Linked DNA regions of Homo sapiens: region 2 is linked to region 1. Evidence: fine-mapped expression QTL. A gene starts in region 1. The other region holds a variant in brackets. All regions are shown on one strand. Distances are between the middles of the regions. Region 1 holds the start of SOCS3 (suppressor of cytokine signaling 3). Region 2 overlaps LINC01993 (long intergenic non-protein coding RNA 1993).

Region 1 (14,716 bases):
TTTTTTCTAGAGACAGACTTTTGCCATGTTGCCCAGGCTGGTCTTGAACTCCTGAGCTCAAGCGATCCACCCATCTTGGCCTCCCAAAGTGCTGGGATTACAGGCATGAGCCACTGCACCCAGCCTGAGACCCTGTACTTAAAAAAAGAAACAACGACAAAAAACAGCTTTCCCCACAGCCGTAGCCATGTACCTGGCATGGGCTCTGCTAGACCTGTGTGGCCCTAAAACTGGAAGAGATGAGGATTTCTGGGACTAGGGTCCTGAGCCTGTTGGAGCCGAGGGGAGGTGCAAAAGAGCCGAAAGTTGTGAGGAACAAATTTGACAAACACAGAAGCTCGAATCAGCAACCTCCCTGTGCAGGGGTGGGAGCCATTCAAAGCTCTTCCATTCATCATTTAAACTTTTCAGTGTCGAAAATCTTGTCATCTGCAAAACAAAACACCCATGCTCAATGGCTCCCTCGCCACAAAGAAGCCCAGGACGTTCTGGCATTTGATCAACAAGAAGCCAGAGCCCAGATTTCTGGAAATGCCTTTTGGGCAGAGCATCCTGGTTTGTTTCTCTGTCACCAGTGAGAGATAAAAGCAGCTCTAGGTTTCAGGGGAATCTCAGCCTTTTGTGGCATGGCGGGTCGCCAGCGCCACCCGAGCAAGGAGCTGCAGGCCTCGAGATCCAGCAGCCCACAGCGTGGGGAACCCAGTGATGTCCCAGGGAATCCCAGGGTCCCCCGCCCCGCAGCTTCTCCCTGCCCAGCCCCCACAGTGAAGTAGAGGAAGAGGCCAAGCATACCTGCTTAAGATGAGGTCCAAGAGGGAAGGGCCAGTGGGACAGGAAGAGCTGGACTCCTCCTCCTGGCCAGGCTTGATTTATTTCCAGTCTCCTCGAATTTAGGAAAGAGACTCAAAATAAATGCCCCAAAGTCCATAGCCTTCCTTGCCCTTTAGCTTGGGAGAGGCAGAGGTCAGGCTGAGTTGCTGCCTCAATGCCTGCAGACCCTGGCAGGGAAGGGAAGGAAGGGGAGGGTGGTCACCCTGGAGGGTGGGCCTGTGCTGACCTGGGGAGCCCATGCCCCACCTGAAGGGCCAACGGGAATGTGCCAGAACGTGGTCCACTGCTACCAGTGTCCTGTTTTTCCAAGGAAAGCTCCAGATTCAAATGTAGATGTGAAATTTCCAGATTTTTTTAATGTTATCTCAAAAATTGTTTTAATTCTGTATAGGCCACACAGCTACTGCGTCTACAGACTGCATTCAGCCGTGCACATGCCACCACTCTGCATCTTTTTTTTTTTTTTTTGGCTGCTTCTTGCAGAGCAGGGCTAATTCATAGGCATTGTGCCCACAGTAGCCTGCATCTTCTGGTCTATAAAAAAGAAAAGAAAAAAAAATGCCCCAGGTGGCACAGGAAGCCAGGGAATAGGAGGGGAAGACTCTGGCTCACCTGATTGCACCTTTTGAATGCTGACCTATGGGGCTGTCTTAGGTATTCACAAACTATGTTTTCAATTTGCAAAGTTCCACAAATGCCTGAACCACCTCCCACAGGTAGAATTAAATGGGTTCTTTTCTCTCTTTTTTTTTTTTTTTTTTTTTTGAGACAGTCTCACTCTGTCCCCCAGGCTGGAATGCAGTGGCACTATCTCAGCTCCGCTGCAGCCTCTGTCTCCCCGATTCAAGAGATTCTTCCACCTCAGCCTCCTGAGTAGCTGGGACTACAGGTGCGCGCCACCACTCCCGGCTAATTTTTGTATTTTTAGTAGAGAAGGGGTCTCACCATGTTGGCCAGGCTGGTCTTAAACTCCTGACCTCACGTGATCCACCTGCCTCGGCCTTTCAAAGTGCTGGGATTACAGGCGTGAGGCACTCCTCCTGGCGAAGTGGGGTCTTCTTAGCTCAGCTCACAGCCACTTCAGCTTGAGCTGGAAGCAGGGGGCTAAGGCCTTTGGGGAGTGAGAGGGAGAGTGAAGTAGAAGTGAATGGGAAAAGACAGTGGGCAGCAGAGGCCCGGGCATGTGGCACCAGGAGAATGCCTGTCCCACCAGCAGGCCCTCCCTGCCTCTGCCAGCTCTCCATCCTCCCCTCCCCTGTGTATGCCACCGAGTGGCCTGGAGGGAGGCCAGACGAGCCTGTGTGTGGGGAAAGCCTGGGAGTCTAGTCAACCAACCTGGGCACCAGCTGGAGCTCTGCCACGATCTGACTGGGAGACCTCGCACCAGGCAGGGACCTCTCTAGACCTCAGCTTCCCATCAGCCTACGTGTGTTACTTCTTCAGGGAATCCCCCTTGGTTGTCCCCCCAATAGATTAGGTCTCCCCATAATAGGCTCACATAGCTCCTGGGACTTCTTCATAGTATGCAGCACAGTCAAAATTAATCAATCCCGATATAATTCTGGAAGAATCTTGTCCTTCTGGAAAAACATCTAAGCTCCATGAGATCCGAGACTGATAAATTTCTGGCACCTAACTCAATCCCTGACACATAGCAGGTGCTCAATAAATATCTACTCAAGGCCAGGTGTAGTGGCTCATGCCTGTAATCCCAGCACTTTGGGAGGCTGAGGTGGATGGATCAGAAGGTCAGGAGGCTAGCCAATATGGTGAAACCCCGTCTCTACTAAAAAATACAAAAATTAGCCGGGCGTGGTGGCAGACGCCTGTAGTCCCAGCTACTCAGGAGGCTGAGGCAGGAGAATCACTTGAACCGGGAGGCAGAGGTTGCAGTGAGCCAAGATTGTGCCACTGCACTCCAGCCTGGGCGACAGAGCAAGACTCTGTCTCAAATAAATAAATAAATAAATAACTACTCAAGGAATAAATGGTAGTATAAAATAAGTGTTATGGCTGGGCACAGTGGCTCACGCCTGTGATCCCAGCATTTTGGGAGAGCGAGGCCAGTGGATTGCCTGAGCTCAGGAGTTCGAGACAAGTCTGGGCAACATGGCAAACACCGTCTCTACCTAAAAATACAAAAAATTAACCAGGCGTGGTGGTGTGCACCTGTAATCCCAGCTACTCAGCAGGCTGAGGCAGAAGAATCGCTTGAACCCCAGAGGCAAAGGTTGCAGTGAGCTGAGATTGCGCCCCTGCACTCCAGCCTGGGCAACAGATTGATACTGTGTCAAACAAAAAACAAGTGTTGCAGGGGCAAGAAGTGACTCCAGGCAGGTCCTGCAGCCCCCAGGGGCCTGACCCTCCACCAGCATTTTGTTTGCAATTATCGGGGGAGTGGCTGTTGGGGGAGTATGAAACCTGGGAAGGGGCAGTTCACATGCTCCAGGTTAAGAAACTCTGAACAACACCAGCCTAAGGCCCAGTGAGTACAGTGCCGGCAAGGGGGAGGGAGGAAGGAACACGTGGGGATAGCTGCCCCAGTTTCACCTTAGACGCCTTAGAGTCTCACCTTCTTGTCCTTGGTGGAGGCTCCAACCCCACTTCTTCTAGCCCACTTCTCTGCCTTCAAAGTTGGTTCAGGATCTTGGGAGCCAGAGAGAGGGTATTATTTTCTTTTTTTCTTTTGCTTTTACATTTTTCTTTTTTTTGAGACGGAGTTTTGCTCTTGTCGCCCAGGCTGGAGCGCAATGGCACAATCTCAGCTCACTGTAAATCTCCACCTCCCAGTTTGAAGCGATTCTCCTGCCTCAGTCTCCTGAGGGGCTAGGATTACAGGCATGCGCCACTGCGCCCAGCTAATTTTGTATTTTTAGTAGAGACAGGGTTTCACCATGTTGGCCAGGCTGGTCTGGAACTCCTGACCTCAGGTGATCCACCAGCCTTGGCCTCCCAAAGTGCTGGGATTACGGGCGTGAGCCACCACACCCAGCCTATCATTTTCTATTTGAACTTGCCCAAGAATCAGTGCACGGCACAGTGCATACCAGGGGTGCTTCACACTGCGGAGGAGGCAGGGACTTCCCAGAGGGTGAGAGGCTCAGAAGGAAGCCTGCGCCCGGGCTGCAGGAGCTTGACCAGAGGCTGCAGGCACACCATGGTCATGAGGAGCACCTGCCCCAGAGCCCCAGGAGAGTCAGGGCACCTGACCGTGACCACTTGGCTCCAGCAGCCAGCCCAACTGCAGTATTGCAGGGCGAGCCGAACAGCTGCACTCAGCTGGTCCCCCACCAGCTCCTGCCTCTCCAAGGGCGCCTGGGCCCAGGACATCCCAAGAGGCACGTCTCCCAGAGACAGCATGGCCTCCTCGCCCCCTCCCGGGCTCTCCCCGTCCTGGGCACTGCCTCGTCTGCATTGCCGCCCAGATGGTTCACCACAGCCTCACTTCCCAGAACTGCCCTGCTGCCCTGATGTCTGTTCCCGCAGCTGCTTCAGGGCAAATAAAAACTCTTCCCACCCCAGCCTCGGACAGAGCAGCATTTGTCGGTTTGGGGTCAGAGGAGATATTGGCTAGGAGCTAACTCCTCACTCCCCACCCTCCAACTCCAAACTTGTAGCAGATGTGGATTCCTTTTTGACAAAGTGGGAAGAAACTTTCCTCCTCTTCTCACTGCGCCCCCAACATTTCATCCTCTCTGCACCCTCCTAGAGTCACCCCCCACTTACCCACTCTCACCCTCTCAACACTTCCCAGGGCCCCTCTGTGGGTGGAGGAATGGGCCCCCCAGGGCAGGGGTCCTGGCACTCCGGCCCAGCCCAATCCCCAGAGGGAACGAGGAATCCGAGAAGGCGGGCAGTGGGTAGGTGGGTGGGTCCCTCAAGTGTTTTCTTTCCCCTCCCCTCCTCGAAGTTTTTCTGGGAAATGCCAGAGGCCGGCTGGGCCTGGAATGTCAGGCTTGAAAGAACTCCTCCACTGCCTCTTAGACATCGGAGCCACAAACCTTTTTATTAGCTCCGGGGGCCCTCCTGGCGGGAACAAAGGCCTGCAAACAGGAATGCCATTGTCCCTGCCTCCCTTGGCCCGCCCCTATGCGAAGCAGGAAAGAGAGGGCTCGGGGTCAACCTGGTCTGAGACCTGTGAACTCTTCCCCTGCTCCGGAAAGGTCATCTGGGCCATAGTCCTGCAGGCTGCAAGGTTAGTCCCACGGGCCATCCCAGTGGGTAAGAAAAGAAGCCAGGGCTGCAGCCGAGGAGGGCTGGGGTGCGGCAGAGCTGAGCACCCCAGGTAGCCCAGCCCTAGGTTCCAGGCCTCAGCCCTGGGAGAGCCACACTGGAGCAGCAGGCAGGGCTTCCAGGAGGTCAGATGAGAGACAGGTCCCCCACCATCTCCTCCAAATTGGCCAAGAGAAAGGGGGACAGAAAAGAAGAGGCCTCCCTGCCTCCTCCCCTTGCCTCTAGACACCAACGCCGGACCTGAAGCTCTAGAAGGGAGGGAAGCTGATTGATTTCCCCACCGTGTATCCCCAGGTGTGGCAGGCTAGCTCACAGGCAGAAGACGCACAGTCAACGGCAGGCACTGGGCAGTCCAGCCCCAGCTGCCTCCTTGCGCTGTAGAATGCCCAGCAGTGTTAAAGACGGGGAGGCCTTGGGTTTGGCATTTAGCAACGCTGTGGTCTGAGGCCGGCATCCCGACCCGTCTACTGCAGATGCAGCCACCAACAATGGCAACCTCAGCATCCGCCCCCGGGTCGGCGAGCCTGTGTTCACCAAGCCATGCCACGGCTTCCCGCGACCACCCCGCGGCGCCAGGTTTCCTTCCCATCCATGAGATTTGGGGAAGGGCTCAGCATCTGTCACACACCATGAGTAAGTGGAGCCCTACAGGCAGCTGAAACCACTGTGTACTTCCCCTCCATCATGAATGAATATCTTTATTATCTTTATGACCAAGCACCTTTGCCTGGAAATGGGATTGTGACTTCGCAGAAATTCTGCAAAGGGAGAGATTAGGAAAAGGCAAAAGTCTCCTAAATCCCTTAGACGGGAAATCAGGAGGGCAGAGCAGAGGGGCCAGATCTCCCCTCGACCCCCCCAGCAGAGGGAAGATAAGAGCAAGCAAGCCTGCGACTCTCTGGCTCTGGCTTCTCTCAGCCGGGGTCCCTGCCTGGAAGCAGCTCTGGAGCGTACCCTGTAAAGGCCCAGGTGTCTCCACCCACATTTTCAGAAACGTTTTCGTCTTCATTCCTTTGTCTTCAGATTAACAGGCCTCTAATCTCCAGCGAGCCATGGATGGGGCTTCCCAGCACTCACACCCTCTATCCCATCTGTATAGCTCCTGAGCCCTGCATGGAAAACCAAAAAGTACTCTAGAAGAAAGCAGGTTGTGGTCTCTAAAAACAATGGAAAGAAGTCAACATCATCCTTGACTTAGAGATTCATTCTACGTACCAGGTTCCAGTCTTAAAAAGAAAAAAAAATCAAATATAGTCTGTTTCCCCAAGATCCTCACTGGAGATATAGTCAGAACATTTTGGTTAATGCAAAAAGAGCTACCTGGAAGTTTAGAGTGTCTGCCTTTTTCCGTCTTTTTTTTGGAGACAGAGTCTCACTCTGTCTTCCAGGCTGGAATGCTGCGGCACAATCATAGCTCACCGCAGGCTCTACCTGCTGGGCTCAAGCGATCCTCCCACCTCAGCCTCCTGAGTAGCTGGGACCACAGGCGCGCACCACCATGCCCGGCTAATTTTTAAAATTTTTTGTAGAGATGGAGTCTCCACTATGTTGCCCAAGCTGGTCTCAAACTCCTGAGCTCAAGCAATCCTCCCACCTCGGCCTCCCAAAGTGCTGGGATTACTGGCACGTGCCACCACGCCCAGCCCGTCTGCCAAATTTTAAAGGAAAAGTAGAAATCAGCCAAGGTGTGGAAGGTAGTTCCCTCCTTGTCCCCAGACAGGGAAGCAAATGTGCAGAAACCCAGGACTGAGGAACGTTACCTTCTGGACAGCTTGGAGCTCCATGTAGCTAGAGCACGAGGCACCAGTCGCTGAGGCAGTGGCAGCCGATGAAACTGACATGGAGCAGCGTGGGACACACACTGCACCGAGGAGTCTGGATTCATCCAGAAAGTGATGGGAAACCATGGGAGAGATTAGAATGCCAAAGGGAAGGCCAGGCACGATGGCTCATGCCCGTAATCCCAGCACTTTGGGAGGCCAAGGCAGGCGGATCACCTGAGGTCAGGAGTTCGAGACCAGCCTGGCCAACATAGCGAAACCCTGTCTCTACTAAAAATACAAAAAAATTAGCCAGGCATGGTGGCACATGCCTGTAATCCCAAGTACTCGGGAGACTGAGGCAAGAGAATCACTTAAACCTGGGAGGCGGAGGTTGCAGTGAGCCGAGATGGCACCACTGCACTCCAGCCTGGGTGACAGGTGGGACTCCGTCTCAAAAAAAAAAAAAAGAAGCTTGGTGGCTGGCTGACCTGTTTCAAGACAAGCAGCTTTTTGGAATGTATCTTCCATAGGAGATGTACGGTTCCCCAAAACAAGGCAGCTTACATCCATAGCCAACCCTATGAGCCCAAGCTGCAGCAGCTCAGCTCACTCCTCCCTCTCCTCAAAGCCTCCCCAGTGCTTTCAAAATCATGACAGTTAATATGCATTGAGCACTTCCTATGTGCAAGGCACCACTCTAAGCATTTTGCATGTGGGAGCTCCAGACAACTCAGTGAGGTAGGTACTACTCTCCAACCATTTTACAAATAAGGAAACCGAGGCACAGCTGGTAAGGCAGATTGCCTAAAGTCACACAGCTACTGGGTGATAGAGCCCGAACAGCAGTTGGATCTCCTGCTGAGATGAGCAGGCAGGGAGCCCCGCACCTCCCACCTCACTCATCACCTGGGGGCTCCATGCCGATTGCCTTGGCCATCTCCCCCTGCAGGATTCACCCAGCACTTCTGTCTTCCAGCACTTCGCCCTGTGCCTGGCAAAAGCAGGCTCTCGGCAGAGGTTTATGGAATGGATGAATGAACTTGACTTGTGTCAGAGCATTGTAATTTACAAAGCACTTTCTCATCCATTACCTCAAGGGCTATTCCTTGAGTCTTCTTTGTCTTCCACTGGGCTCTACCCAGAAGTGTATGGTCATGCAGCCACGTAACACTGAATGGATGAGAAAAAGAATGAACTGATTACAGAGAGAAGGAGAATCCATTTCATTACCCTGCAAGCATTGTGAGGGCAAAGACCAGGTCCTACTCATCATTATATATCAATGCCCAGCCCAGTGCCTGGTGCATGGAGCTCAATATTTGTGAAATGTGTTGAATAAACCAGTTTCCTCCTCTGCTCTCCTGATAGGCTGGAGGGAGAGTTGAACTAACTGGGTTACTTCTATTTCTATCACGCTTTGATGTGCAGAATCTTTTTTTTTTTTTAATTTCAAATCTCTTATGGCAAAAGGTTCTTTTTCTTTCTTCCTTTTCTTTTCTTTCTTTCTTTCTTTTTTTTTTTTTTTTTTTTTTTGAGACAGAGCTCTGTCGCCAGGTTGGAGTGCAATGGCGCGATCTCGGCTCACCACAACCTCTGACTCCCTGGTTCAAGCGATTCTCCTGCCTCAGCCTCTCAAGTAGCTGGGATTACAAGCATGTGCCACCACACTCAGCTAATTTTTGTATTTTTAGTAGAGACGAGGTTTCACCATGTTGGCCAGGATGGTCTCGATCTCCTGACCTCGTGATCCACCCGCCTCAGCCTCCCAAAGTGCTGGGATTACAGGCATGAGCCACCATGCCCGGCCCTTTTTATTTCATTTTATTATTATTTTTTTTAACAGGGTCTCACTCTGTTGCCCAGACTAAAGTGCAGTGGCACGATCATGGCTCACCGCAGCCTTGACCTCCCTGACTCAAGCGATCCTTCCACCTTGGCCTCCCAAGCAGCTGGGACTACAGGCACAGGCCACCACTCCTGGCTAACTTTTTTCTATTTTTTGCAGAGATGGGGGTGCTCACTTTGCTGCCCAGGCTGGTCTTGAATGTCCATGCTCAAGTGATCCTCTCGCCTCCGCCTGCCAAAGGGAAGGAAAAGGTTCTGGCTCCAGTTTTACAGGTGGCAAAACGGAAGCCCAGAGAAACTGTGTGTCTTGTCCAAATCTCACTGAGTCCCCAGCACATGCTGGGGAGAGGTGATGGCACGGACTGAGGATACAGTGGCAAAGGCAGTGCGCACCTATCAATTCCAGGGCCGGCAAAAGGGCCAGTTCTGGGTTCTGGCATCCCAAGCTCCCTGTCCCTGGCGGCAGTCTCTTCCTTCCCTTTCAGCACCTCATTATCCTGGTATCTAGGAAGAGCGCAGGGCCCCAGGCCCACAGCGTCTGCATCCCGAGAGGTGAAAATCTAAATGCCACTGAGGCAGCTCTCGGGTGTCCCCAGCACCACACAGCCCATTTGGGGACAAGATGACAAAACTTGCCATCCTTCATAAGGCTGGCCCCGGGTCTCCAAGCCCAAACTATCTACGTCAGTGCCAACGTGACCAGCAGCAAACCAATCTTTCACCTCAATCACTTCCTCTCCTCCCCTCTACCCCCTCCCCGCCAGTGATCAAGTCCTCCCCCACCCCAAGAGAGGCAGGGGGTCACATTCCAGGGGGTGTGGGCCATCTGGCAGTAGCCTGAACCCCGGAAAACTGCTTTCCGGAAATTCTCTCCTGCTAGAATTTTATTCCCAGGTCTGACCCCAGCCTGGGGTGTGAATGCCCCCTTCTCGGCCACCTTTCCAGCTCCGGAGACAGCCATTCCCGCAGATCCCTGGCGTGCCTATTCCAAGGCCTGGGCCGCGCAGCACCAAACTGCCCTCCCCTAGGAGACCCCAGGGCGCCCTCTGGCGGACGCGGGCCGTAGGTTGGGGCCATCGTTCCACCTCGAGCTCTCCAGCCCGGCCGAGAGCACCTGGCCCAACCCACACCGGACCAACCAGGTTTGCAGACCCCAGTGCATGAAAGCGTTTTCATAGGGGAGGGGAGGGGGGCTCCACACTCGCGTCAGGGTTGGCAAAGAACCTGGCAGTGGGCCGAGGCTGGGTAGCTGCCACGAAGGGGCGTCCCCTGCAGCCCTGGGTCTCCCCTCTGGAATCTGCCCGCAGGTGACTGTCGCACGTCTCCAACCTCCGGCTCCCGGGTCTGACCCCAGCCCCGCTGCCTGGCTGTGGGGTAGCCCCACTTCCCTTTCGGCTGGCCCGGGCCGCCTGACCCGCAGTTGGGCCCTCGGGGAGGCCCGGGTGGCGGCGAGGGGGTGTCCCCGCGGGGTCCGGGAAAAGGGGAAGGGGAACCGGGAGGCTCTCCAGGTCGGCCTCCTAGAACTGCCCGCTCTCCCGAAGCGGCGCCCCCGCCTCTGCCAGAAATCAGCCTTCTTAGAAGGGAGGGGGGTGGGGGGAAAGTGTGAATGAGAAGTTGGGGGCGGAGCGCGCGGCGGGGAGGGGCCGCTGCCAGGAACGCGCCGCCGGGGCTGGCGCCGCGCCCACCGGCCGCCTCGGCCGCCTCTCGTCGCGCTTTGTCTCCGCGCGCGTCCCTCCCGGTCCCTGCCCCTGCTCGCGGCCCGCCCTCGGCGCCCGCGGCCCCTCCCTCACCCTCCGCGCTCAGCCTTTCTCTGCTGCGAGTAGTGACTAAACATTACAAGAAGGCCGGCCGCGCAGTTCCAGGAATCGGGGGGCGGGGCGCGGCGGCCGCCTATATACCCGCGAGCGCGGCCTCCGCGGCGGCTCCGACTTGGACTCCCTGCTCCGCTGCTGCCGCTTCGGCCCCGCACGCAGCCAGCCGCCAGCCGCCCGCCCGGCCCAGCTCCCGCCGCGGCCCCTTGCCGCGGTCCCTCTCCTGGTCCCCTCCCGGTTGGTCCGGGGGTGCGCAGGGGGCAGGGCGGGCGCCCAGGGGAAGCTCGAGGGACGCGCGCGCGAAGGCTCCTTTGTGGACTTCACGGCCGCCAACATCTGGGCGCAGCGCGGGCCACCGCTGGCCGTCTCGCCGCCGCGTCGCCTTGGGGACCCGAGGGGGCTCAGCCCCAAGGACGGAGACTTCGATTCGGGACCAGGTAGGAAGGAGGAGCGCGGCGTGGGGAGGGGTCTCGCTCAGTCCCGGGAGCTTTTCCCGGTTTCCCCTCCCCTTCCCGGGTCATTCCCGGCAGGGAGGTGACGAGGTAGGGGCAGAGCGGATGGAAGCCGGAGATCCCAGGTTCCCGGAATACTCCGGCTGGGGCCTTCGGGCTTCTCCTGTCCCCTCCCTACCCCCGTGCCTCGGGTTTCTCCCTCCGTCCACACCGCCCGGGGCTACTGGACTGAGCGGCGCCCAGGCAGTCCCGGGGGCCCTTCTCCTGCTCCCCACCCGGCCACACTCCTGGAGACCTAACTTCCGCGCGCGAGTTTCCCACGCTGCGCCCTTGCAGTGCGCGCCTGGGAAGGGGCTGCCCGGGGCCACCCTGCCGGCAGGGGCGGGAGCCGTGCGGGCTCCGTGAGGCGCCTGGATCGGAGCGCGGGCCCAGGAGAGGGCCCCCGGGGCAGTGGGTGCCCCAGTCGCTCGGCGAAGGCAGGGGAGCCGGGGCGGGCCGGGCGCGCTGGAGGGTTCCGGGCACTCAACGCGCTCGCGCCTTCCTCTCCGCAGCCCCCCGGGATGCGGTAGCGGCCGCTGTGCGGAGGCCGCGAAGCAGCTGCAGCCGCCGCCGCGCAGATCCACGCTGGCTCCGTGCGCCATGGTCACCCACAGCAAGTTTCCCGCCGCCGGGATGAGCCGCCCCCTGGACACCAGCCTGCGCCTCAAGACCTTCAGCTCCAAGAGCGAGTACCAGCTGGTGGTGAACGCAGTGCGCAAGCTGCAGGAGAGCGGCTTCTACTGGAGCGCAGTGACCGGCGGCGAGGCGAACCTGCTGCTCAGTGCCGAGCCCGCCGGCACCTTTCTGATCCGCGACAGCTCGGACCAGCGCCACTTCTTCACGCTCAGCGTCAAGACCCAGTCTGGGACCAAGAACCTGCGCATCCAGTGTGAGGGGGGCAGCTTCTCTCTGCAGAGCGATCCCCGGAGCACGCAGCCCGTGCCCCGCTTCGACTGCGTGCTCAAGCTGGTGCACCACTACATGCCGCCCCCTGGAGCCCCCTCCTTCCCCTCGCCACCTACTGAACCCTCCTCCGAGGTGCCCGAGCAGCCGTCTGCCCAGCCACTCCCTGGGAGTCCCCCCAGAAGAGCCTATTACATCTACTCCGGGGGCGAGAAGATCCCCCTGGTGTTGAGCCGGCCCCTCTCCTCCAACGTGGCCACTCTTCAGCATCTCTGTCGGAAGACCGTCAACGGCCACCTGGACTCCTATGAGAAAGTCACCCAGCTGCCGGGGCCCATTCGGGAGTTCCTGGACCAGTACGATGCCCCGCTTTAAGGGGTAAAGGGCGCAAAGGGCATGGGTCGGGAGAGGGGACGCAGGCCCCTCTCCTCCGTGGCACATGGCACAAGCACAAGAAGCCAACCAGGAGAGAGTCCTGTAGCTCTGGGGGGAAAGAGGGCGGACAGGCCCCTCCCTCTGCCCTCTCCCTGCAGAATGTGGCAGGCGGACCTGGAATGTGTTGGAGGGAAGGGGGAGTACCACCTGAGTCTCCAGCTTCTCCGGAGGAGCCAGCTGTCCTGGTGGGACGATAGCAACCACAAGTGGATTCTCCTTCAATTCCTCAGCTTCCCCTCTGCCTCCAAACAGGGGACACTTCGGGAATGCTGAACTAATGAGAACTGCCAGGGAATCTTCAAACTTTCCAACGGAACTTGTTTGCTCTTTGATTTGGTTTAAACCTGAGCTGGTTGTGGAGCCTGGGAAAGGTGGAAGAGAGAGAGGTCCTGAGGGCCCCAGGGCTGCGGGCTGGCGAAGGAAATGGTCACACCCCCCGCCCACCCCAGGCGAGGATCCTGGTGACATGCTCCTCTCCCTGGCTCCGGGGAGAAGGGCTTGGGGTGACCTGAAGGGAACCATCCTGGTACCCCACATCCTCTCCTCCGGGACAGTCACCGAAAACACAGGTTCCAAAGTCTACCTGGTGCCTGAGAGCCCAGGGCCCTTCCTCCGTTTTAAGGGGGAAGCAACATTTGGAGGGGATGGATGGGCTGGTCAGCTGGTCTCCTTTTCCTACTCATACTATACCTTCCTGTACCTGGGTGGATGGAGCGGGAGGATGGAGGAGACGGGACATCTTTCACCTCAGGCTCCTGGTAGAGAAGACAGGGGATTCTACTCTGTGCCTCCTGACTATGTCTGGCTAAGAGATTCGCCTTAAATGCTCCCTGTCCCATGGAGAGGGACCCAGCATAGGAAAGCCACATACTCAGCCTGGATGGGTGGAGAGGCTGAGGGACTCACTGGAGGGCACCAAGCCAGCCCACAGCCAGGGAAGTGGGGAGGGGGGGCGGAAACCCATGCCTCCCAGCTGAGCACTGGGAATGTCAGCCCAGTAAGTATTGGCCAGTCAGGCGCCTCGTGGTCAGAGCAGAGCCACCAGGTCCCACTGCCCCGAGCCCTGCACAGCCCTCCCTCCTGCCTGGGTGGGGGAGGCTGGAGGTCATTGGAGAGGCTGGACTGCTGCCACCCCGGGTGCTCCCGCTCTGCCATAGCACTGATCAGTGACAATTTACAGGAATGTAGCAGCGATGGAATTACCTGGAACAGTTTTTTGTTTTTGTTTTTGTTTTTGTTTTTGTGGGGGGGGGCAACTAAACAAACACAAAGTATTCTGTGTCAGGTATTGGGCTGGACAGGGCAGTTGTGTGTTGGGGTGGTTTTTTTCTCTATTTTTTTGTTTGTTTCTTGTTTTTTAATAATGTTTACAATCTGCCTCAATCACTCTGTCTTTTATAAAGATTCCACCTCCAGTCCTCTCTCCTCCCCCCTACTCAGGCCCTTGAGGCTATTAGGAGATGCTTGAAGAACTCAACAAAATCCCAATCCAAGTCAAACTTTGCACATATTTATATTTATATTCAGAAAAGAAACATTTCAGTAATTTATAATAAAGAGCACTATTTTTTAATGAAAAACATGACTTGAGCCTTTTCTGCACCCCTGCCCCCCCGCCCCCCGCCCCGTGCCTTGCTTTCTCTTTCACCCACACCCACACTCTGCATCGGAGAGGAGGAAGAGAGCCGCAGAGGGTGGAATCGAATACGTCTCAGCCTTACGTCAGCACGCCTGCCTCGTGTGTCACTGACAAGCTAAGGCAGCCACCTAGACTTACCGAGAGGGGTAATTCCTGCAAGTCTGATTCAGATCTGACCAGAATATGCAAAGCAAGTTCGAAGGAAGCGCTTCAAAGGGCTTGCAGGGAGCAAGCTGAGCTGTGGTCAAAGCTTTTAGAGGCTCCAGGCTATTAGAGGCGCTCTGGTTCCTTGGCAGGGAGTCGTTCCGAGAAAGCCCAGACATGGGGTCCTAGTGGTGACCTATGACCTCAGTCTAGCCAGGTTCACTGGAAGTGGGGGGAGGGGTGGTCCTGAAGCAAATCTTGCATGCAGGTGGAGCCCCACCCCCTCCCCCACCACAGGACCCCAGGCATTCAGGGGCTTCCTGGCCACTGCTCCCCATGCCTGCTTCCCTTCCCCGTTCCTAGGGGCCCCAACCTGAGCAGCGGACAGGATCACCCTCCTCCCAAAAAGCACCCATCTATTCATCTCTCTCTTTTTTTGAAACAGGGTTCGCTATGTTGCCCAGGCTGGTCTCCAGCTCCCGGGCTGAAGGTATCCTCCCCTCAGCCCATCTATTTTTAGTCACTCTCATTTAAACACTAAGGGGCACTTAGAGGTTACCTGGATTAAGCATCCCACCTGCTCCCACAAGGCAGGCATTCTCATCCCCATGTTCTCAGACA
Region 2 (14,716 bases), 110 kb after region 1:
CCAGGGATCTTGTCTGTGCCCAAACTCCTGAGACTTCCCTGTCCTTTCCCACAAGGGCCCTGGCTCTGGTGGCTGCAGAAGTGGGAGGAGGGGATGTGGGGGAGTCTGGGGAAGGCCACCTTCCATGACGCTCTGCCAAGCCAGGAGGAGCGAAGGAATAACCTGGTCCCCGTGCTGGACCCTGGACTCCAGGAAGCAGAGCCCACAGCCGGCTCAGCCTTGGGTCCCCTGCCTCTGTGGAGCTGGCCCTACCCCAGATGGCCACTGTGCCTGAGGCCCGGCATCTGACCCTCTGTCCTCCCTGCCGAGGGGCCAGAACAGAGGCCCCGGCAACAGGCAAGGCGCAGTGCACGGAGCTGACCCCGTGCCTCGGTCCAGGCCTAGCAACAGGAAGTGAGAGGCCAATGCCGGTAAACGAGATCCGAAAGATTAGAGGCCTCGCTGCCGCCCCAAGTTAGAGGACAAGTTCCTGGAAGGAGGAGGAAGCTGCCGCAGTAAATAACGCCAGACCCCAGCGTCCCAGCTGTCAGCAGCCAGTGCGGCCGCAGGCTGGTAGGCCCAGGAGGGAGCAGGTGGGGGCAGAAGGCACAAGGGGGTGCCCTGGTCTCAGCCCAAGCTGGGGACACCTGGAAGGCAGTAGAGGGGTTCCTGAGGGTCCCCCCAGCCCAATCCCTAAGTCCCCATTCCCCTGTCCACACACACCACAGCTTGCAACCGTATCTAAAGACAGAAGCGGGGCCGGGTGCAGCGGCTCACACCTGTCATCCCAGCACTTTGAAAGGCCAAGGCGGGTGGATTACTTGAGAGCAGGAGTTCAAGACCAGCCTGGCCAACATGGTGAAATCCCCTCTCTATTAAACACAAAAATTAGCTGCGTGTGGTGGTCGGTGCCTGTAATCTCAGCTACTGGGGAGGCTGAGGCAGAGAATCGCTTGAACCTGGGAGGTGGAGGTTGCAGTGAGCTGAGATCGCACCACTGTACTCCAGCCTGGGCAACAGAGCATGACTCCATCTCAAAAAAAAAAAAAAAAAAAAAGAAGAAGAAAAAGAAAGAAAAGAAAAAGAAAAGCCAGCCAGCTGCAGTGGCTCATGCCTGTAATCCCAGCACTTTGGGAGGCCAAGTTGGGAGGACTGCTTGAGGACAAGAGTTTGAGACCAGCCTGGACAACATAGCAAGACCTCATGTCTGCAAATAAAATAAAATAGCCAGGCATGGTGGTATGTCCCTGCTACTCTGGAGGCTGAGGCCGGAGGACTGCTTGAGCCCAGGAGGTTGAGGCTACAGTGAGCTATGATCATACCACTGCACTCCAACCTGAGCAAAAGAGTCAGACCTTGTCTCAAACAATAACAACAAAAAAAGACAAACCACAGCACGGGGGAAATTTTTTTTTTTTTTTTTTTTTTTGACAGAGTCTCACTCTGTCACCCAGGCTGGAGTGCAGTAGCTCGATGTCAGCTCACTGCAGCCTCCACCTCCTGGGTTCAAGCAATTCTCCTGCCTCAGCCTCCCCAGTAGCTGGGATTACAGGCATGTGCCACCACGCCTGGCTAATTTCTGTATTTTGAGTAGAGACAGGGTTTCACCACGTTGGCCAGGCTGGTATCGAACTCCTGACCTCCAGTGATCCCCGTCCCTTGGCCTCCCAAAGTGCTGGGATTATAGGCGAGAGCCACCGCAGCTGTACTGTGGGGAAATTTTTTTTTTTTTTTTTTTGAGATGGAGTCTCGCACTGTTGCCCGGGCTGGAGCGCAATGGCTCGATCTCTGCTCACTGCAACCTCTGACTCTTGGGTTCATGTGATTCTCCTGCCTCAGTCTCCCAAGTAGCTGGGATTACAGGCACATACCACCATACCCAGATAATCTTTTGTATTTTTGGTAGATATGGGGTTTCACTATGTTGACCAGACTGGTCTCGAACTGCTGACCTTGTGATCCGCCCGCCTTGGACTCTCAAAGTGCTGGGATTGAAGGCATGAGCCACTGCACCCAGCCCTGGGGTGAAATCTTTGCAACGCACAGAACCCGCAAGGATCAGTATGCTTGCACATACCAACCAGCCTGACCAGTCAATGAGAAAAGACCAGAACATGCTCTTCACAAAGAGGAATTCAAACGGCTAAAACATAAGAAAAGGGGCTGGGCGCGGTGGCTCACGCCTGTAATCCCAGCACTTTGGGAGGCCAAGACGGGTGTATCACGAGGTCAGGAGATCGAGACCATCCTGGCTAACACGGTGAAACCCCGTCTCTACTAAAAATACAAGAAAAATTAGCCGGGCATGGTGGCGGGCGCCTGTGGTCCCAGCTACTCGGGAGGCTGAGGCAGGAGAATGGTGTGAACTTGGGAGGCGGAGCTTGCAGTGAGCCGAGATCGCGCCACTGCACTCCAGCCTGGGCGATAGAGCGAGACTCCGTCTCAAAAAATAAATAAATAAATAAATAAATAATAAAAGGTACTCTCCTTTAGCAGTTAACAGAAAGAGCAGGGCCCAGTGTGGTGGCTCATGCCTATAATCCCAGCACCTTGGGAGGCTGATGGGGGTGGATTGCTTAAGCCCAGGAGTTCAGGCTGCAATGAGCTATGATTGCACCACTGCACTGCAGCCTGGGTGACAGAGCAAGACTCAGTTTCTTCAAAAAAAAAAAAAAAAAAAAAAAAGAGGCCAGGCACGGTGGCTCATGCCTGTAATCCCACCACTTTGGAAGGCCGAGGCAGGCAGATCACCTGAGGTCAAGAGTTCAAGACCAGCCTGGCTAACATGGTGAAACCCCCATCTACTAAAAATACAAAAATTAACCAGGCGTGGTGGTGGGCACCTGTAATCCCAGCTACTCGGGAGGCTGAGGCAGGAGAATCGCTTGAACCCGGGAGACAGAGGTTGCAGTGAGCCGAGATTGCGTCACTGCACTCCAGCCTGGGTGACAGAGTGAGATTCCATCAAAGAAAAAAAAAAAAAAAAGATCAGATTAAAATTGCCAGGAGATATCACCACATATCACAAGGACAGCTAAGATGAAGAAGTCTGATAACACTAGTGTTACCGAGATGGAGAAGTGTGGGAAAGTGGGGGAGGAGGGCATTTCCAGCACTTTGGGAAAGGATTTGGCACACCTAGTAAAGCTGCAGATGAGAGACCCCAGAATCAGCAGCCCCACCGCCAGGCGTCCGCCCTCCCGAAGCAGGCACCTGTGCCCCAGCAGACAGGAATAAGAATGCCCACCAGCACCACCGTACATGGCCAGTCTGGAAACAAAATCCCAAATGTCCCTAAACAGGTAGAATGGAGAAATAAACTATGCTCTAGGGACCCAGTGGAAAAGTACCTGGCAGCAGAGAATAAATGACAGCCACAGCACGGGTGACTCTTGCAAACAGCCTAATGAAGCCAGACATAAAAGGAGACACCCTGATTCGACTTCTGTAAAGTTCACACACAGGCCACACTCAACACTCAACTGCTATTAAGGGATACATCTACGGTGGCAAAATCATAAAGAAAAGCAAGTCCTGGTCATAAAAGTCAGGCCAGGCCAGGCCTGGTGGCTCACATCTGTGATCCCAGAGATTTGGGAGGCAGAGGTGGGAGGACCGCTTGAGTCCAGGAGTTCGAAACCAGCCTGGGTAACATAGTTAGACTCCATCTCAAATCTGTCTATCTATCATCTATCTATCTATCTATCTATGTGTGTGTGTATATATATGTGTATATATATGTATACATATATGTGTATGTATATGTATATGTGTATATATATATGAAGAAGAATGTCAGGGCAGCAGTAACTTCTGCAGAGGGAAGGGTTGTAAATAGGAAGGAAGCTTCTGGAATCCTGGCCATGGTCTATTTCTTTTGTGTGTGTGTGTGTTTGTGTTTGTGTGTATGTGTGTGTGTGAGACACAGTCTTGCTCTGTCGCCCAGGCTGGAGTGCAATGGCACGATCTCGGCTCACTGCAACCTCTGCCTCCCGAGTTCAAGTGATTCTCCTGCCTCAGCCTCCCGAGTAGCTGGGATTCCAAGCGCCCACCACCATGCCTGGGTAATTTTTTGTATTTTTGGTAGAGACGGGGTTTCTCCATGTTGGCCAGGCTGGTCTCGAACTCCTGACTTCAGGTGATCCACCCGCCTTGGCCTCCCAAAGCCCTGGGGTTACAGGCGTGAGCCACCACGCCCCACCATGGACTATTTATTGGTCTGAGTGGCTATGGCACGGGAGTTTATTTTATATGTATTTATTCATAACACTGTACAAATATGCTTCATGAGCATTTCTGTATGCGTGGTAAATTTCTTAATTTTTTAAACAAGCAAGTGTATTTGAGCGCCCATTGTGTTGGGCACTGGGGATGGGCCATGCCGAGCTCCCGCTAGCCCACGGTGAGCTGATGGAGTGCAGGTGAACATCCTGTGGCTTCCTGTTGAAGTCATGCACAGGGTCTCCCCAGCTCTGTAGCCCCCCTGCTCTGCACCTGGCTGGGGAACAGCCCTCACGCCCCCCTCACTCCACCCCCCATTCTCTCCCGGTCTCGCACCCTCATGGCACCTCACTCTGGATTTCCGGAGATGGTGCTGAAGGCGAACCTGGAGAGGGACATCTTTCCCACTAGGGGGTCCCAGTTGGGGAAGTGCAGGGGCTTGGAGGAGCTCCCTCCCTTCCCCTTCCCACCCTCCCAACAGCACACATGACCTTGACACCCAGTGGCCCCCACGTGGGCCAAGTGCATGCCCACCATGGGCCCAGCCAGGCCCCCAGGCCCAGCGCCCTGTCCTTTGCCACCCAGTCCCCCAGGCTGGGAATGATGATGGCAGTGCCGACAACTCCCCTCTGGATCCCAAGCTATCGGGGCTGGGCTTAGGCTAGGGCGCTATAGATCCTGCAGGCTCAGGGCCAAGAGGATGGGATGGAAAGGACATTTCCCCCCCCCCACCCCCCCCACCTGTTTACCAGGACCCAGGGCCGCTATCTCCAGCTGCGATCTGCTGCCTCCCTTTATCTCAGCGGGGCCAGCCCTGGGTTCCCAGCAGCAGCCTCCCCGGCGCGCACTTCCTGCCAGCAGCCCAGCGTTACAGGAATCCGCACACTGAACTCAGCATGTGAGTGTGTGCCCACACCCCAGCGCCTGCGCCTGGGCGGGTGCCAGGGAGCCGGGGGCGCCGTGAAAGGCAGCCCACCTGGGGCTTATGTCGCAAGGCCCCCTCCAGCCAGCCCAGTGGCCTCCCACTGCTCAGGGGAGCCGCAAATCTCTCAAGAAGGCCAGGGAGGGGGCTGTCTTCAGGACCCCCAGACCTGACTCTGAGAGGCTGAGGCCAGGCCAGCCCCTGTTCCTCTGGAATCCTCGCCATGTCCTTCTGCACAGGGGTCTCACACCCTGGGGGGTGTGCACACTTCTGCCTGGGGGGTCCCAGGGGCAGGGGATGGCGAACCACATGTCCCTCCATTGTCAGTCACCTGGCTGGTGTTTACTGAGTCCTGTGGTCCTGGCACTGGGCTAGGCATGCAGGACACACCAAAGGAGGAGGGCGTCTGGGCCCTGCAGGCACAGGGCATCAGCCACACGGAGAAGTCAGAGGAGTAAACAGGCAGCTGTGACCCGTGCGCAGTGGGAAGAAAAGGTGCTATAGGCAGCACAGGAGGAGGGCTACCTCCATCCCCCACTGGGCTGGGCCAGGAGGGCTTCATGGAGAATGAGGCGTCTCAGCTAAGATCTGAAGACTTAGAAGGTGGTGACCAGGGATGCGTGCCGACGGTTGGGGGTTTTCCAGACAGAATGCAGGTGCAGAGGTCTCGGGGTGAAAGAGAGGCCAGCGCATTCGGGAACAGAAGTGTTGCAAGCCAGAGTGTGGGGCGGGGAGGCGTCTGGGAGGCAGAAGGGCTGGAT[C/T]CCACAGAGGCCAGGGAGGAAGCCCCGCCGAGGGGCCCCACTGCACCCACGGACAGAGGAGCTCAGAAGTTTGGGAAGGGCTGGGCTGCAGGGGTCAGTCCTGGGGGGCAGGGGCTCAGGAGAGAAGGGAGCAGCTGGCATGTGGGGGTGGGGCCAGCCTGCGTTGGGGCAGGAGATGACCCCAGGACCTCCAGTGATGGTGACCCTTCTAGTGAGAATGTCAAGAAGAACTGCAGAGAGGGGAGGGAAGAGGGTCAGTGCTGGGACAGGGGTGGGGGCAAGTAGAGTTGGCTCCACAGAGGGCTTTGGGCTTCTCATCCCAGCCTGGGAACTGCGGCCCGTCCCCAGCTTACCAGCAAGACAACTCAGATCTCAGTTGCAGCCAGGGTCACACACACACACGTGCGCACACACACATGCACACACACACACACACCCATGTACACACGCATGCACACACACACATGTAGGAGCCCAGACAACCCCCCAGAGGCCAAGCTGGGGTCATGGGGTCCACCTGCCACAGGCCTCACTGCACCTTTCCGTGTGAGAGCCCACCCTTCTTGCTCCTCCACACTGTCAGACCCCACTGGGACAAGGCAGGGCTGGCCCAGGTGACCCGGGGACTAGATAGGAGGACCCAGAAGAAGGAAACTGTTCTGCCCCAGGTTCCCCCAGGGAGAGGCCACCTATCTGGGGAGACAGCTCTGATTTGGGAGAAAGGGAGAAAGGCCCTGTTGGGTGACCAGCTGTGCCTCTCGGGCAGGGTCCTCGGGCCTCTGTGACCCCAGCCTCCCTGCCCATCCTTCCACTGCAAAGCCGCTGGGACCATTGGCAGGGAAGCTGCAGAGGGCAGGCTTTGCAGACTGCGAAGCTTGGCAAACAGGAGGCCATTCTGTGATTCTGCCATAGCTCGAGGGGCCGGGGGTCCATTTGTTTGTCCCCCTTCTCCCCTGAGCGCTGCTATCCCTGCCCCCAGTCCCTGCCCCGCCAGACCACCTCCTTTCCTTCCCACAGAGGCCTCCGTTCCCCGCCCCCTACTTCCCAGCAGAAGGTCTGGAGCCAGACAATGAGATAAGGGGCTTGTTTTCTAAGGGCAGGAATTTGGTGCAGATTGTGGGTCAGGCCCAGAAGGGCTCTGGGGAGGGGAAGGCAGCAAGCCTGTCCATCACATGGGTGTCCTTGGGACCACTGACCCTGCGGGTACTTACAATTCCCACCAAGCTGAAGGAAGAGAGATGGAGAGCCCCTGAGAGGTCATCAGGCCCCGGATGTAGCTTTTGGGCTCCATCCCCACCCCTGCTCACTTCCCCAGCCACGCTGGCCCTCAGGGCCACAAACGCAGCAGCTCCTCTCTACCCAGAGGCTTCACCCCTGCTATCCCTCTGTCCAAAGTCGGCTCCATCTTCGAAGCTCAGCCTAATCACTGCTTCCTCCAAAAAGCCTGCCCTGCTGCCTGGACTGGGACTGTTAGAGCTGCTTCCTCGCTGCCATCCTCTCACGGCCAGCATCTTGTCCCCCACCCCTGGGACCTGAGCTCTGGAGGGCAGGCCACCTCTGCTCGCCCTAAGTCCCCAGGCCTGACCTGGAGCTGGCCTGTGGTAAAGGCCTGGCCATGACTGATCTAGGATGGGTGTCCTCCTCACCAAGGGCCACCCTCACCAGACGCTTGGCCCAGCAGCTGTGGCCCCTCCTGGATCTTTCTCCTATGGGGGACAGAAAGAGGAAGAGGAGCCGCTGAGTGGCAATGGGTGCCTGTGCTCCCTGTGTGGGGGAAGGGCACCCCACAGTCTAGACTGTGTCAGAGTTCACCCCAAAGCCCCCGGGCCCTCAGAGTTCCAAGCTGGGATCAGTAACGACAATGATAATAACAGCCACAGCTGGGCAGGTCGTGATGGCTCACGCCTGTAATCCCAGCACTTTGTGGGGCTGAGGGAGAATCACTTGGGCTCAGGAGCTTGAGACCAGCCTGAGCAACACAGCAAGACCTTGTCTCTACGAAAAACACAGAAAGATTAGCCAGGCATAGTAGCACTTGCCTGTAGTCCCAACTACTTGGGAGGCTGAGGTGGGAGGTTCACCCAAGCCCAGGAAGTCAAGAATGCACTGAGCTGTAATCACACCACTGCACTCCAGCTTGGGGGATAGAGTGAGACCCTGTCTTAAAAAATTAAAAAACAGCCACAGTGGGGTGACCACCCTGAGCTTACAGCAAGCCAGGCATTGGGGTCAGCACCAAACACATATCCAGTCACTGAATGCTCACAACAGCCCAATCTGCAGTTGAGGAAACCGAGGCACAAAGAAGCTACATGGCTTGTCCAAGGCCACACAGCTGGCTTGAACTTCAGCACCACCCTGCCCCCATGGAGGCAGTCCACCCAGGGGCAGGGGCCTATGGAGGAGGGGCTCCCCACGCATTCTTTTAGCGGTCTCCCCTTAGACTGGAACCCGGCTGGAGACATAGCCCTGTCCCCCAGCCTGGCACCTGGACACCTGGACACTGCCTGGCGCACCGAACTTGCTCAACAAATCAATACTGAAGATGGTAAACGAGGGAAGCTGTGTTTTAGGGGCAGCATGAAACAGTGATTTAGGGCTGCCCTCTGGAGACAGCGGTACCCCGCCCGGACCAATTCCTACCCAAGTGGCCTCCAGCTGTCCGTTAGCTCCGCGTCTCCTGTTCCCCATCTGCAAGACAGGGATAGCAATAGTGCTTGTCTCCTAGAGTCGTTGGGAGGTTTAACTGAGCTAACATTTGCAAAGGGCCTGGGGCAGAGCCTGGCACATGGCAAGTGCCACATGAGCGTCTGTGTTATAAAAGCTCGCCCAGGGCTGGGTGCAGTGGCTCACGCCTGTAATCCCAGCAATTTGGGAGGTCAAGTCGGGTGGATCACCTGAGGTCAAGAGTTCGAGACCAGCCAGGCCAACATGGTGAAAACTCCTCTCTACTAAAAATACAAAAAAAAAAAAAAATTAGCTGGGCGTGGTGGCGCGCGCCTGTAATCCCAGCTACTCGGGAGGCTGAGACAGGAGAATTGCTTGTACCTGTGAGGCGGAGGTTGCAGTGAGTCAAGATCGCGTCACTGCACTCCAGCCTGGGCGACAAAGCGAGACTCTGTCACACACACACACACACACACACACACACACACACACACACACACTCGCTCGGCCTCGGTTTCTCCTTCAATGAGCAGAACCTTCTGCTTCAGCATCACGGGCTCGCTGGTTCTCCGCCGCGACGCAGCCCGTACTACAACTCCCAGCGTGCCACGGGGCCCGTTCGCAGACGCTCGCGCACGCCCGCCGCGAGGGAGCGCGAACTACAACTCCCAGCGTGCCACGGGGCTCGCTCCCTGGACCCCCGGCCCAGGGCGGCTGCTTCCCAGCTCTAGGAATTCTGGCCGCACCGACCACGTCGCTCTCGCCGCCTTCGCTGGGGAGTAGAGGAGTCAGCAGCTCCCGCCGGGGTGGGGAGTCGGGCGCTGCCCGCGCCATGCTCCGCAGACTGGCCCGAGCGGCGGCCCCGGTACATGGGGCGCTCCGGGCGGGGTGTGGGAGCGCGGGGGTCGCAGCCTACGTGGTGGGCCTGCGCAGCGACAAGGTGACCAGGCCCGGGCCGGCCATGAGGTGCGTCATGGCCGAGGCGGTCGTGGGGGACGACGACTACGGCGAAGACCGGCGTGCAGGCCGGGGGTCGTGGAGGCGGCAGCGGAGCGCTGTCCGTGATGGTCTGGGACGCAGGGGAAGTGGCTCCCTTGGCGCTTAAAACCCATTTATGCCTAGTGTTCCATTATTGGAACGCTAAGCATCTGGGAGGTATTTATGTCCTACTGCTCAAGGTCATCGCCAAGGTCTGATGGCAAAAATTCAAAAAATTGCAACCTCCGACATAAATGGGTGTAATGAACACCTGCCACAGGATAGGCTTGCCGTCTGCGTGCGTGCTGCTGTTACCTGAAAGTTAGAAATGCAGATTCCGGCCGGGCGCAGTGGCTCAAGCCTGTAATCCTAGCATTTTGAGAGGCCAAGGCAGGCGGATCACGAGGTCAGGAGTTCGAGACCAGCCTGGCCAACATGATGAAACCCCATCTCTACTAAAAATACAAAAATTATCTGGGCGTGGTGGTGGGCACCCGTAATCCCAGCTTCTCAGGAGGCTGAGGCAGGAGAATCACTTGAACCCGGGAGGCAGAGGTTGCAGTGAGCTGAGATCGTCCCACTGCATTCCAGCCTGGGCGACAAGAGCGAGACTCCATCTCAAAAAAAAAAAAATAAAAATAAAAATAAATAAATAAAAGAAATGCAGATTCACATGGCCTGCCGAGAAGAACCTGCATTTCTATAGGCTCACCAGGTGGTTGTGTGTGTCCTGCATTGTCACCCAGCTGCCCCCTGAGATGGGTGATGTCCAGTCTTGCAGAGGAGGGTTCTGAGATGTGGAGGGAGGCGCTCCAGGCCCCATACTTAGTAAATGGCAGAACCAAGGTTTGAACCCGGGTCTTCTGACTCTGAAACCCACAACTGTTCTCCTGCACTGCCTTCCCCCACAGAAGGCAAATGGAAAATAGATGTAGAAAGGGGCAGGTTCTACAGGCTGCACCTCGCAAGGAGTGGGTTCTAATAACCTAGGGAGTGTCTCCAGGGTACAGCGACCCCCAGCCCCAGCCCTGGGTTGTGAGTTGCCATAGTGAACCACTTTGACTGTTGGGGTGTGCACACCCCTCAGCTAGGCCAGGACAAGCCATGGGGTCACCAGTTGAATCCCGAGGGCCCGTCTGCTAAGGGGTTAAGGGATGGCTGGGGCTAAGCATGTATCCAGCTGCTGCCCAGCGTTGCTGGAGATGCTGATCTCCATGCTCCCAGGCAGCCTCACATGTCAACAAGTCACTGCCGCTCAAGGAGAGGCTGGGGAGGCGCTTGAGTTGATGGGAGTCTAGAGAGGGTGCCCTGGGAAGCAGAGGATGGGGCGAGGCTGTGGCTCACGGGGAAGGGGGCTTCACAGAGGAGCCCTCCTGCAGGCTGAGTGGAAGCATCCCAGGCAGGGAAGGGAGCGCCGGCTCACAGGGCAGGGGTCTTCAGGAGCAGAAGCAGACTGGTGAGAAAGGTCTTCAGGGCGCAGGTGGGGATGTGGCAGGTGTGGAGAGTGCAGGAGGCTCTGAGGAGGGGGGGCAGAGGCCAGGTCACTCCAGCCCTGAGTGTCATGCTAAGGACTTGATGCCACAGTTGGGGGGACCACAGTGGGCTTTACAGCAAGAGCGGGAGCCTTCCTCACCCTCCAGCTGCACCCTCACACCCCGTCCAGCCCCCCACTCATCCCTCCTGACGAGGAAAGGAAGTCAGCAGAGAAACCACAGGCCCCACCTGCAAAGGGCTGAGGGGAAAGGAAGTGAGACAGGTGTGAGGTCTGCCGGGGACAGGTTCAAACCACAAGAGAGGTTCTTGGGGGGAGCGGGGAGAGGCCATGGCCCAGGGTAGGTGGGGTGCAGAGTTGACTGAGGGCCCTGTGGGGCTGGATGTGTGGTTGCTAAGCCCACAGAGTGTGCAGCTGGTGGATGGGGCTCCAAACCCACTCAGCTGCTCACCGGAGCCTCGGGCTAGGGGCCTCACCTGGGCTCAGGGCGTGCTCTGGCCCAAGTGACACAGGGAAAGCAGCATGGACGGTGCTGACACCCGAGTGTGCAAGCACAGCGGCTTCCCTGTCCCTCCGCAGAGCTGCAAGAAATGGCTGTGGAGCTGCTAGGGCTGGGGCGCACCCTCTTTGTGCCCTCCAACACTATGGCCAACCTCATCTCTGGTGAGCGCAGGGCGACTTCTGTCTGCCTAGCAGGTCCTCAGTGCATATGGGGGGGCTCTGACACTCATGGACCACATTCCTCCATTTCTGTTGGGTTGGTGGGGAGCCCTGGAAGGAGATGGGGGAGGAGGACAGTGGGGGCTGCAGGTCTGCTCCTCCCTAGCTCCTCTTCCGAGGGTCCCCAGGGCCTCTGGGCCAGCGTCAGGGACCTCTCCACATAGCCCTGGCTCCGGGTTCCTGCAGCCACACCTTCCTCTCACCCCTCAGGCCTGTTCTCCGGGCTTCCCTGCTCCTGCCTCCCCTCTATAAACCGTCCCATGATTAAACACTGCCAGTTTCCCAGTGTGTGTGTGCCGTCTGTTTCCTGCCAGGGTCTGACGACTGCAGGTGCCTCGGCTGCGTGTCCACCAAGAAGCAGCATTGCAGCAGCTTCTCCAGCAGGCGATGCTCTGTGGAGGGGCCTCCAGGCGCAGGTGTGCAGGCTGGGTGTGGCCCAGCGATTCCCAGCGCAGCACAGCTATCCTAGACTTGTGTGTTTAATGGGATGGTCTTCTGGCACGTAGCACTGAGGTGTCTTGAAGGTGCTGTTTCCTTGCCGGCCTCAGGCATTTGTGAGTTGACTGTAGCCTTAGGGCTCAGCCTAGCCACGCTGAGCAGGGCCACATGCCTCCAGACTCAATGCCAAGACCTGCCCTCCTTCTGTCTCAGTGATGTGTCACTGCTGGCGCCGGGGCTCCCAGCTCCTCCTTGGGCAGGAGTGCCACCTCCACGTCTATGAGCAGGGTGGGGTGGCTCAGGTAAGGAGCAGGCATTGCTCACCTGGGGCCCTGGGCATCCTCCAGCCAGCACAGGCTGCTCAGGGGCAAACCCCCTTCCCAGGCACCAGGCTGGGACCTGCGGAGGGGAGAAAGGGACAGCCATGGAGAAGCTGGCTGGGATGGCAGCCTCTCCAGGGGAGGAAGGAAGGAGAGCAGAGCCCCAGATTTGCCACGTGGGGGCGGCAGCGGCTGGGGCTGGCCCCAGGCTTGCCGGGCAGACACCTGGGCGGTGCTTGGTGCCTGGTGCCCTCTAGTGGACACTCGGAGCACTCCCGCGCTCCCGACGGGAGCCAGACAGCAGCATCTGAAGAGTTAATAGGGGAGGGGCCCAGTGCCCCCCAGCTGGGACGTCTGTCTAGATGCACAGAACAGAGGAAAGGCTCCAAGGCCCAGGCCTCGGGGGAGCAGACACAGGACTCAGGGTCTGGCTCCTTACTCCAGAGGAGCCCCCCACTCCGCCAAGAGGTGCCCCTGGACCCCTCAGCCCTCATCCTCTTCCTGACCCACAGAGGGCTGGAGTGCACTCCCACTCCCTCCCAGAGCTGCCCCACTGCACTCTGGACTGGCTGAGCTGGAGAGGATGATCACGCGGGGCCTCCAGAGTCCCTACCACCAGGTCTGCGAGCTCATTTGCCTGGAGAACTCACACAGCATCTCGGGGGTCCGGATCCTCCCCATCAACTACCTACGCCAGGTAGGCCCAGCCCCACCACTGTGTGCCCCCCACCAGCCTGATCCTGGCTTCCTGTGCCCCTGGCCCATCCTGGGGTTCAGTCCCCTCTGATTTATGCCATGGGCACCCATCAGCGGCCAGACCTGTCACAGGAAGGACACATGTGTGGTCCTAGGCTGAGACACAAAGGGAATTATTACCCCAGGTCAGGGCCCCTAGTCCCTGCACCAGCCCAACAGCAGAGATGCCCCCACCCCCAAGTCCCCAGAGCTGAGTCCCAGAGCAGCACCAGGACCTGCTGCCCTGGCGCAGAAACGTGTGCCCCATGAGGCTGCAGGAACAAGCTCGTGTGAGTGCCCTCCACCTGGTCCTTGCCACCCACGTGCGAGGTGAGGAGGCCGCAGTGTCTGAGCTCTGCTGTTTACCAGACACTAGTTAGGCAGCAGCCTAACTCTCCAAGCCTTGCGTTCCTTGCCTGTGAAATGGGAGCAGCGGCGTCTCCCTCGAGTTGTTGTGCAGCCTAAATGAGGTGACACACATTTACCCTTGGCCCACGGTCGTTTGGCCCATGCTCAGTGTGCGACAAAGCTGGGTTAAATGTGCACCCCCAGATCCTCCCAGAGCCCAGCATGGAGGCTTAGGCAGCACAGCCTGACTGCTTGGGTCCCAGATCACCAGAGCCAGTCACCAGCCAGGTCTCCTGATCCCTCCTGATTCCTCAGGCAGCTAAGCCCAGGACCCTCCTCCCTCTATGCCTCCCTCAGGCCTGGCCCCTCTGACTCTGCCTGCACCTCACCCCCAGGTGCACCTCCTGGCCCAGACCTATGGGGCCTGGGTCCACCTGGACAGGGCCCAGCTGATGAACGTGGTGCTGGCCCTGCATGTCCCGCCCACCTACATTGTGGAGCACTGTGACTCTGTGTCTTTCTGCCTCTCCAAGGTGGGAAAGCCCTGGGCTGGCCTCCCACAGACAGGTGGGGTGGGGCGCCCCAGCAGGAGGCAGGGTTGGATTCCTGAGCTCCATCCCTGGCAGCTGGCCCCAGGTTCCCCTTTAACACCTCTGCAGATGGGGCTACGCATCTGTCCCCACCCTGGCCCAAGGACAGGGATGTGAGCTGGCAGGAGTCTCTCCTCTCCACCTCCCAGGGCCTGGGCGCCCCAGTGGGGTCCCTGGCTGGGAGGCCCAAGGACTTCATTGAAGAAGCCTGGCGCCTCCAAAAAGCCCTGGGTGGAAGCATGCACCAGGTGGGGATGCTGGCTGCGGTGGCCCTGGTGGGACTGGTTGACACAAAGCAGGCACTGTGGCAAGACCATGGGAACGCCCAGAGATTCACCCAAGGTGCCTGGACAGGACGCCCCACCCTCGCTTCCCTGTGCTTCCTCTGACTTGGCCTGAGCTGTGCCGTCGGGGGTCCCCCAGCAGGCCTGCAGGCTTCTGGATCCTGGGACTCAGGGTGGCCATTGAGTCACTAGGGCGGGACCCAGGGCACCAGCTGCTTCAGCAGACCCTACTCAGCGCAGAGTCCAGCCTGGGGAAGCCCT

The links.
Region 2: its variant is fine-mapped to the expression of SOCS3 in whole blood (INTERVAL, PIP 0.99).

What each region holds. Positions count from the first base shown.
Region 1 is chr17:78,355,954-78,370,669 of GRCh38, reverse strand. It overlaps SOCS3 (suppressor of cytokine signaling 3), which reads left to right and starts at 10,593. Exons shown (of 2, transcript NM_003955.5): 1 at 10,593-10,920; 2 at 11,487-13,892. The coding sequence starts at 11,575. The coding sequence ends at 12,252. It overlaps SOCS3-DT (SOCS3 divergent transcript), which reads right to left and starts at 10,222. Exons shown (of 5, transcript NR_110847.1): 1 at 9,897-10,222; 2 at 7,919-7,997; 3 at 3,404-3,477; 4 at 1,777-1,942. RefSeq lists enhancers at 4,255-4,344, 6,654-7,231, 10,589-11,237, 13,184-13,833, 13,891-14,390 and 2 more and silencers at 9,692-9,741, 9,972-10,171, 10,232-10,541, 10,552-10,831, 11,242-11,481 and 1 more.
Region 2 is chr17:78,249,083-78,263,798 of GRCh38, reverse strand. LINC01993 (long intergenic non-protein coding RNA 1993) reads left to right here. Exons shown (of 7, transcript NR_073178.1): 6 at 1-552; 7 at 1,886-2,450. LOC105371910 (a long non-coding RNA gene) reads right to left here. Exons shown (of 2, transcript NR_164160.1): 2 at 11,308-12,577. It also overlaps the pseudogene THA1P. Among named protein-coding and RNA genes, the nearest start is that of LINC01993, 22 kb to the left of the region's middle. RefSeq lists enhancers at 4,554-4,723, 4,269-5,133, 5,456-5,775, 5,786-5,835, 9,140-9,409 and 4 more, silencers at 4,996-5,045, 9,440-9,589 and cis regulatory regions at 4,696-5,284, 6,784-7,242. The variant C/T (reference allele first, on the strand shown) is at 5,884.